2 linked regions of the Homo sapiens genome follow. The protein of the gene in region 1 interacts with the protein of each later gene in a biochemical or structural test. Each region holds a gene or a part of one and is shown on either strand. Other genes may lie near its edges.

Region 1 (5,936 bases):
AGCAAGGGTGACAGGGCTCAGGGGAACGGCAGGACCCAGCACCCTCGGAAGGAAAGCAGAGGAAGGATGAGATGATTGGGAGGGAAGATGGTAGGGCAGATGTGGTCCTCTCCCCCACCCCTCCACACCTCCACCACTTCTTTCTTTCGCTCTTTCCGGCTTGCCTTCTCCTCCACCTTCTCCTTCTTCTCCTTCAGGTCCTGCAAAGGAGAAAGAGGTCACCTTTCTCACCACAAATGGCTTGCAGCCCCTAAGTCCCTGCAGCCCCAGTTCTCCCTCTGTAGTGAGCTTAGAGGTGTGTGAACTGAATAAGGTGGCCACAGCTTAGAGACAGAATAGGGGCCCTAGGGTCCTTACATTAGGGCCATGAAGGGGTTGAGACCAAACACCTCCTTCCCCAAGACCCAAGGTGAGGTGGGAAAGGGATGAAGAAGCAGGAGCGGGCAACCAGGGTAATGATCCCCACCCCCATCAAGTTCTCCCAAACCTCACTGGCTGAAGAGTTCAGCTCAGCAAAGCAAATCCTCTCCATCTGCTTGCAGCCTCAGTGCCCCGCCCCCTCCTGTGTCCCTCCGCCTCCCTTGCCTGCCCCGCCACTGCCCGCCCAGCTCTGCCTTTTGTCTACCTCTGGGGCCTTTTCCTGAGGACTCTCTCTCCTGGGCATCCCTCCCAGCTTCCCCTTCAGCTTCTAAGGTCTTTGTTTCTCTCCATCTGTGTCTCCCTAATCCTCAGGCCCCTACTTGGCCAAACACTACACCTTAGCACATTCCCAGCACCCCTCCCACTTTCTGCCCTCCCCGCCCCAAAACAGTTCAAGTAGTTTCCTCTATCCCTGCCTCCCATGGTGTATGCATGGGTGTAGTGGAAGTAGCCATTTACGGTGGAAATGTAGGTGAAGTAGAAGAGAAAACAAGGAGGGGAAGAGTAGCAGGCGTGGGAAACAAGGAGAGAGCAACAAACAAGGTCTGTGACTGGGGTGGGATAGGAATGGAGAAGAGGGAGGGACCAGTCTAGGAGACCCTCCCACCAGCCAGCCCCTCTCCTTCACCCCAAGATCCTAGCAGGCATAGGTTGACGTCCTGTGCTGATATGGCACATCTGAGTCCCTTCTGGACACTACACTAGCCTCCCAATTCAGATTCCAGTGCTCTCCCCACCCACTCCTTGGCAGGCACAGTGTAACACGGTAGGTGTCCTTGTGTGATCTGATCTGGTGTTGGTGTGCCACGCTGTGTATCTGATTCCATGTGAATGGAAGTCTCCTGTGTGAGATCACCCTGGGCGGGGGGGTCCTTTCTGGAACAGGATAGGGGATAGGAGAGGAGCCTGGTGCAGAACGGCTGCCCTGGGGGGCACTCAATTCCCTTCTCCCTTTAAGGGTAGCTCAGAACTCTTCACTCTCACTCCAGAGAGGGTGCCCTTCCACCCCACCGTGAGGTCTTCATTTCTGTGCCACAAGGTCAGTATGGCATTTCCACTACCTAGGGGGCTCTTCCCTACGTCCTGGGCCAGGAGAGCAAAGAGCTGGTCAGCTTCTCTCTGGGGGCCCCAGCACCAAAAGTCTGTATGGCCCTGGCCTGACTTTCCCATCTGGGCTGATGCAGGGAGGGAGAATACCAGAGACCAAAGTTCAAGGGGCCGGGCCCTCTCCTCCCCTGTTCTGTCCTTCTGGTCACTGTCCTTCCATGATCCCTTTTCCAGGAGAATATGTGACCTGGGCCCTAGGTCTTCTGCTAAGCAGCCCTCTGGCCTCATTTACTCAACACAGGCACACACACCGACACCGGCCGACAGCCATGCACAGACACAGTTAGAGAGGAGCACCCACGCGATGGGAGACACATGGCCCAGCGTTGGGCCATTCTGGTCCACACTCTTGAGACAGCACGGGAGCACAGCGGAGCCACTCAGCACTCACAAAGCGACAACATGGCTCCAGAACATCTACGTCTCCACATGCACACATGTAACTGACACGGGCAGTCCCACACACTCGCTGGATTTCAGACATACAAAGACACCTACTCAGTGAAGTCACATGCCACCGCACAGCCCGCCGGAGGGCCACACGGGCGCACCTTGGCAGATCGCACACAGCCCCTCTCCCACCGCCGTTAATCCCATTGGCTCCCCCCGTTTCACTCCGCGGGCCTCCGGGAGACCTGTGTGACGGCCCCTCAGCAACCACCGCGCCCCCCCCCCCCGCCATACACATACACACACAAGATAGGGCTCCCAGCCCCCAAACCCCGGCCGCGTTAATTTCCCAAAGCGACACTCCGCAGGTTCCCTGGGGAAATTAGAGGAAGGCTGGAAGAGAGGCAAGGGCGAACGGATGGGGCCGGGGAAGGGAGCTGATGAGGGCGAGGACAGCTCGACGCAATGCCATGCAATGCCCAGCCTCGGCTTTTTCGAAGGCTAGTCCTGCCCCGCTTCTAATTTTTAGGAATTCGAGATTCTTTCAGTGTGTATGCGGGAAGGGGACGATGAAGAGAAAAGAAAGCTGAAAGCCAGCTGAGGGGAGGGAACGAGAAAACAGAGGCGGCCGCCGTCCGGGGAGAGAAGCGAGCGACGGTCGGGCCGCGGGGAGGGGCCCGGAGGAGCAGCCTCCAGGGAGAGTCCTGTTTACACTTGAGGATCTCAAACCGCTTAGCGAGGAAAGGTGAGGTCAGGTTGCAAGCAAAGACGCGGCAGCGGGGCGCAGGGAGGGGGCGCGGCAAAGTGAGACTCGGGGCGTTCGGACGGGAAGCCGGACGGGATCCGGTCAGCGAGGTGGGGCCGAAGAGGGGTGGGGACGGCTGCGGGGGACGGCGCGACCGGAGCGGCGAGGCCGGGCGCCGTGGTGCGCGCAGGGCAGCTAGAGGGCGCTGGCGCTAGCCGCGCGGAGCCGGGAAAGGAGCTCCGGGCCGGGGAGCGGTGGGAGGGCGCAGTGGGGTCCGCCAGGACCCGGGCGCAAGGGCCGCGCGGGGCCGTCGGGGGCGGCCTGGGGCGAAGGACCGCGCCGGGCCCCAGGGCTGCGCGAGGTCCGGGCCGCCGCCGCCCCCGCCCGTACCTTGGCGCTCAACTCGGCCGCTGCCTCCACGCTTTTCTCCGACATGGTGCCGGGGCCGGGGCCGGGGCTGGCGGGGAGCCGGGGTCCCGGGGCCGAGACGGAGGGGCCCTGGACGGCGGAGGGTGGCCGCGGCCGGAACCTGGCGCGGTGGCGGCGGCGGCGGCGACAGCGGCAGCGGCGGCCGCTCGGCAAGCTGGGTCTCTGGAAGAGGCGGCAGAGGCGCGCGGGGTGGGGCGGGGGTGGGTCTGGAGCGGAGACCCGCAGGGCTGCGGCCGTCCGGAGGGCGGGCGGAAGGGCGGTGCAGGCGGTGGCCGGCGCGCTCGGCCGCGGTAGCTCGATCCCGGGCTCGCCGCCCCCGCACCAGCAGAGCTGCCGCCGACCAGCCGCTGCCGCCCCCGGGAAGGGAACCCGCTTATAAGGCGGCGCTGCCCGACGGGAGGGGCTTCCCAGGGGTGGGGCAGGCGGGAGCGGGGAGGAGAGGAGAGGGGAGGGGGATGAAAGAGGAGGTTGGAGAGGTGGGGATAGGAGGATGAAAGCGAGGGGAGGGAGAGCTAGGGAGTCGGGAGGGAGGACGAGACCAGGAGGGGGAAATGGAGAGACTGACGGCCGCGGAGAAAGAGTGGGGCGAGGAGGTGGGAAGGGGTGGGGTTCCTGCGGGGAGGCACCTTTCCAAATCCCAACCTACTGCCTGCGAATGTGGAGTCTGGCTTTTGGGGGCGGACTGGAGAGGTGGCCAGAATCCTACTGACCCCAAAAAAAGCCCTGGGATTTTGCCAAGGGGTGGGGTGAGGGGAGCAGATGGGAAGATAGGGCAGGTATTTGAGAAACCAAAAGCTTAAAGAAGAGGAAGAGGGTTCGGGCGCTCCTTCCACACCACGCCGGATTTCCCCCTCTCATCCTCCATCCACATTCTCTGGATGGCCTTGAGGAGGGATGGGAGGGCAGAAAGGGCGGCCCAGCCTTCTGTCCCGCCAGATTGACACTTGTGACCCTTGCCGGGTGCCTCCCTTCCTGGCCCCGTGCTGTGAGCCGGGGGGAGTCAGGCCCCCTGGTCTCCTTTGCTGTCTTCCAGCTCTCTTCCATCTTCTACCTCTCTTATTCGCCCGTCTCACCTCACTTTTATTCGCCTGGTCCTTCTATTTCTCTTCATCCGTCCTCAGTCATCTGTACCTAGACCCCTCCTTCACAACCAATTATAACTCGAATCGCTCCCATTCTTCTCTCACCTCTTCTCCACTCCTCACTGACTCTCTTCTGCCCTTCCACCTCTGGTCTCTTTCCCTATCTTTCCCAGACAACCCTGCTCTTGTCTTATCTGAGTCAGGCACCTGGCCCTCTATTCTTGGCTGGCTTTCCTCAACTCCTCTTTCTGTCCTCATTTTTTACATTTTCCATCCTTCAGCTTTTCTCATTCCTCTGCTGCCATCTTCCCTAGCCTTTCTGGGTTATATTTGCCTCCTTTGCAAATATAATACAGGTCCAGGTCTGGAGTTCCAGCCCCACCCTATTCCACACATCCTCAGCTCCTCGCCCTCAATCTCGGTATCTTTGAGTCATTTTGAAAAGCTTGGGATTTCAGAAGGGAACAGGGGCTGGGTTGTGTATTAAAGGTCAGGAAGGTGGACAGAGTGGAAGGCTGGGGTTTGGAAAAAGACCTTTGGTGTGCGTGCACTCCCATATTTGTCTGTCATTATCATTATTCCTCATCTTATTATTTTCATTTTATTAATAAAAAACTACGTTGATGATCATTATCATTATTTTGTGTTTGAGTGCTTAAATACACCATCTTTTGGTCCCTTGATGTACACGCCTCCCAGTTTCTCTTTCTGACTTTTCTATCAATATTTCAGTCTCAGTCTCCTCAAAAATCTTGGGGCCCCACCCAGGATTTTTCCTTGCCGGACTCTGTCCATCTTTTCTGAGATCTTTCCATGTCCCTCTCTCAATCTGTTTCTCTGACTCACTGGCTGATGTCTTCAGCCGTCTCTCACCGTCTCCATCTCTGTACTCCTCTTGCTTCATTTATCTCCCTCTCCTCGATCCTTTGCTACTCCCCCCCCCGCCCAACCAACAACCCAGTCTCCCAGTCTCGCTCCCTCCCCATCAGGCTCTTTCCTCTCCCTCCCGCCTTCCTTTCCTCTTCCCTCCACTCCACCTCCCAGCCCCGCCTGCTGTCTCGGACACCCTGCTGGGCTCTTACCCTGTTGCCCTGGTAACCGCCCCCCACTCCGGTCACCTCCACTCCTCTCCCCCCTCCAATCACCGCCACCAACAACCTCCATCCACCTTCCTCCTATTTTTCCTGATAGCCAATAGAAACCCTGTTGCCAGGTGGAATGCTCATTTGAATCAGCCAATCCAGAAGCCTAACTGCTTGCCCTGCCTTATATGGGGATGTGAGGAGGGCCACTCCCCCAACTCCAGCCCCACAGGGGACCAGCCCCTCCAGTGTCCCTTCTCCCCGCCCTAAAGAGAGGCTGGGACACTCCCTCTCACCCTTCCATAAGGGACCTGGCCTCCCACTTCTCTAACTGGGACCACCAGGGTTAGCGTGGGCTGTGGGCCGGACTGTGGGCTGGGCCTCAGGGCTGGGGGTGGGAATGAGGTGTGATTAGGGAAGGGGAGGCGGAGGGAGCCGGGAATTTTGCCCAGGGAGGGGTGTCTGGGAGCAGAGGCAGCTGCAGTGGAAAATTCCAGAGAGATGGAGAGGCAGAGAATGGGAATCCTGCCCCAAAGCCCAAGGGAGTGCCTTGAGAATCTAAGAGCTTGAACACTAGGGTCCGAGGGACCCCAGGGAAAAGATCTAGAAAGCTGGAGGCCTGGATCGAATTCCTTTCCTGGTGGATGAAGCATCCTTTAGCCATCTCTCTCTGGTTGGACA
Region 2 (3,465 bases), on another chromosome or scaffold:
GTAAATGACAGCCTCTGGAATGTGCATTGCAGGGCCTTGCTTAGTGGTAGGGAATGATTTCCATCACTTCTGTGACATTCTGCTTCCCAATAAGTCTTCCTGTGACTTCCCTATTTCCCCCATCCCAGATTAACTCAACAGTGTCACTCCCTGGGGGTGGGTCTGGCCCCCCTGAAGATGTGAAGCCACCAGTCTTAGGGGTCCGGGGCCTGCACTGTCCACCCCCTCCAGGTGGCCCTGGGGCTGGCAAACGGCTATGTGCAATCTGCGGGGACAGAAGCTCAGGTATGTGGCTCAGAGGATGAACAGAGAGGGAGAGTCTGGGCCATGTATCATCACCTGTGGGATTCCCAGGGCTTATGGAGTTTGGTCAGAGCAAGTGACCTGGGGGAGGCCTGATGGGAGTAAAGAAGCTGAAGCTGAGATGTAGGACGCGATTGGGGGGAAGGTCAGAGGGAAAAGGAAGCAGCGTGTAGGGTTTCTGAACAGTGAGGAGACTGGGACTGGATCATCACTCAGCTCCTGGTTCCCTATCTCTGTATTTGGCAAACAGGGAGGACTTTAAGTTTTGCTAGGGGGAGATTGGAAACAGACTAAATGGTGAAGGTGTCTCCATGCAACCTTCTTATTGCTCCTCCCCTTTCCCTGTAGGCAAACACTACGGGGTTTACAGCTGTGAGGGTTGCAAGGGCTTCTTCAAACGCACCATCCGCAAAGACCTTACATACTCTTGCCGGGACAACAAAGACTGCACAGTGGACAAGCGCCAGCGGAACCGCTGTCAGTACTGCCGCTATCAGAAGTGCCTGGCCACTGGCATGAAGAGGGAGGGTAAGGACCCGCCCTGCCCAGGCGTCTTAGACCACATGCCCTTCTCCCTTATCCCACTCAGACTGTGTACCTCTCTGGAAGGGTGGACTGCTCTCTCTCCTCTAGAGGGCGATATTTGATTTCTCTCTCCCTTCGCAGCTCTCCTCCCTGTTACCCTGTTCTGGCCCTTGAGTTTCCTTCTTAATGGTTAGGCCTCTGTGGCCTGCACATATGACCCCTCCCTAGACTGATCCTAGGATAGGATAACTTTTCCTTAGCCATGATGGGCTGTCTCCCCATTTCTAACCTGAGTGGTTCCTCCTCTGATTCCATGGACCTTCTCTGGTCTCTGTCTCCTGTTATCTGTGATCTTTCCTCTAACTCCTGGGACTGGGCACTCTTAAGCTTACAGACTTTACTGAAGACCTCAGGGCTTCCCTTCCTTCTTCTGTGTCTCCATCTTATCTTCTTAAGTCAGATTCCTAGGATTCTGAGAGACACTTTAGAGCATATCTTGGTCAAAACACCCACTTTAGAGAAGATGAGCCTGAGGCTTGGCTTTCCCAAGGTCATGCAACAAAGGAGTGGCAGGCAGGTTTGGGATCAGAACCCACATCTTCAAAGACCTAGGCCAGTGCTCCTTTCACTGCCTATTTGTTGAGTCAGAAGAGCACAAGATTTGCACTCAGACACACTTAGAGTCAGTTGTATGACCTGCCATGTATTATATGAATTTAAGCAAACTAATCTCTTTGAACCCCGAGTTCTTCATCTTAAAAATGAGAATAAATGCTTCCAGCATCATTATGATAATTGAGTGAATGGTAAAATGTGCTTAGCATGTTTCTTGGCATATTTTATTTAAAAAAATTTTTTTTTTCAATCAGCTTTCTCAGGTTGAATCTTGGCATGTTTTTTTTAACCATGTAGTAGGCTCTCCATTTAAATTCCTCCCTAATTCTTTTACCTACCTCACCCTTCCCGACTGACTTACCTGCCCTTTTATAACCCTTCCTTCAGGGCTGCCCCCAGTCCACCCTTTCTAGTGACTTCCCCAATTCCTATAAATATCTCCCAAGGGCCATGAGATCCTGATGAGGCCGTAAGGATATTTGTGGAACCCCTTCATGGCTGGCTGCTGACTTTCCATTTTTTCTCTCCCCCTTCCCCCTGCAGCGGTACAGGAGGAGCGTCAGCGGGGAAAGGACAAGGATGGGGATGGGGAGGGGGCTGGGGGAGCCCCCGAGGAGATGCCTGTGGACAGGATCCTGGAGGCAGAGCTTGCTGTGGAACAGAAGAGTGACCAGGGCGTTGAGGGTCCTGGGGGAACCGGGGGTAGCGGCAGCAGCGTGAGTGTTGGGGTCAATCCACTCTCCTTCGTGATGGGGGTTGGGGGAGGCAGTCTAGGTCTGTTCTACATCCCCTCCCCCTCCTTTCCCCTCATAACCTTCCTAACACTACTTGGGACTGGAGGTGCTGCCAAACAAGGTCTTTCAAACATCTGAGGTGGATGTGATAGCTCCTTCTGTCTCCACTCCCCAAACAACCCACTGGCAGAACCATAGGCATGTCCCAAATAAATAATTGTTTGCACTAATGCCAGAAGAGAAGACTCACTTACAGGGATTGGTTTGGATGGGGCTCACAGGAAGACTATATGTAAGGAGGGGGTGTCAAAAGCCTCTTACAAGGGGGCTCCCAGCATATCTCAAAATCTTCCATAACTCTTACCCCCGTCCCCTGCAGCCAAATGACCCTGTGACTAACATCTGTCAGGCAGCTGACAAACAGCTATTCACGCTTGTTGAGTGGGCGAAGAGGATCCCACACTTTTCCTCCTTGCCTCTGGATGATCAGGTCATATTGCTGCGGGCAGGTCAGTGACCTTGGATCCCTTTGACTTCTTGACATTTGACCCCTCTTTGACTTCCCGATCTTTAGTGACCCCAGTGGCCTTACCTTGCGTACCCAGGGAGCCAAACTTGCTGACCTCGCCACCTCTTTTCTCCTTCTCTTCCACTGATGTGCTTTGAATCCCTTGGCCTGATTTCTGGCTCCTGACCCTTGCTGCCCCACCCAGGCTGGAATGAACTCCTCATTGCCTCCTTCTCACACCGATCCATTGATGTTCGAGATGGCATCCTCCTTGCCACAGGTCTTCACGTGCACCGCAACTCAGCCCATTCAGCAGGAGTAGGAGCCATCTTTGATCGGTCAGTGGCCCTCGGCTAGGCTGGCATGTAGATAGAGGGGGTGGGGCTATAGGCTGGTCCGTGTCCAAGGCTGGCTGAGCTGTGACCTTTGAGTGACCTGCAGGTCCCTCTCCAGGGTGCTGACAGAGCTAGTGTCCAAAATGCGTGACATGAGGATGGACAAGACAGAGCTTGGCTGCCTGAGGGCAATCATTCTGTTTAATCCAGGTAAGAGGAGGATTACCTTTGTCTCTCAAGGCCAAGGCAACCTTGGAGCCTCCTCTTCTCCGAGACTCCTAAGTTACCCAGCTATCCCCCTCAGTAAGACCCTCAACCTGGAAATCTCCCAACTGGCCGAGGAAAAACCCACATCCACGGATCCATCCCACAAACCCAGTGGGCCCTGCTTCCCTTGCCAGGCCTCTGGTAAAGGGCAAGCAAGTGCAGCCCAAAAGGGGCATCC

What was found. Proteins that work in one complex are often made in the same cells at the same time.
Region 2: the proteins of PTMS (region 1) and RXRB form a complex in vitro, tested with the Homo sapiens proteins (one large-scale study listed by BioGRID).

Annotation. Positions count from the first base shown.
Region 1 is NC_000012.12:6,763,867-6,769,802, reverse strand, and holds the start of PTMS (parathymosin), read right to left. Parts: upstream 3,441-5,936; 5' UTR 3,098-3,440; coding exon 3,053-3,097; intron 201-3,052; coding exon 129-200; intron 1-128.
Region 2 is NC_000006.12:33,195,128-33,198,592, reverse strand, and holds part of RXRB (retinoic acid receptor RXR-beta), read left to right. Parts: intron 1-128; coding exon 129-285; intron 286-651; coding exon 652-831; intron 832-1,986; coding exon 1,987-2,159; intron 2,160-2,556; coding exon 2,557-2,686; intron 2,687-2,890; coding exon 2,891-3,023; intron 3,024-3,126; coding exon of another isoform or gene 3,127-3,138; coding exon 3,139-3,230; intron 3,231-3,465. UniProt on the Homo sapiens protein: Receptor for retinoic acid. Retinoic acid receptors bind as heterodimers to their target response elements in response to their ligands, all-trans or 9-cis retinoic acid, and regulate gene expression in various biological processes.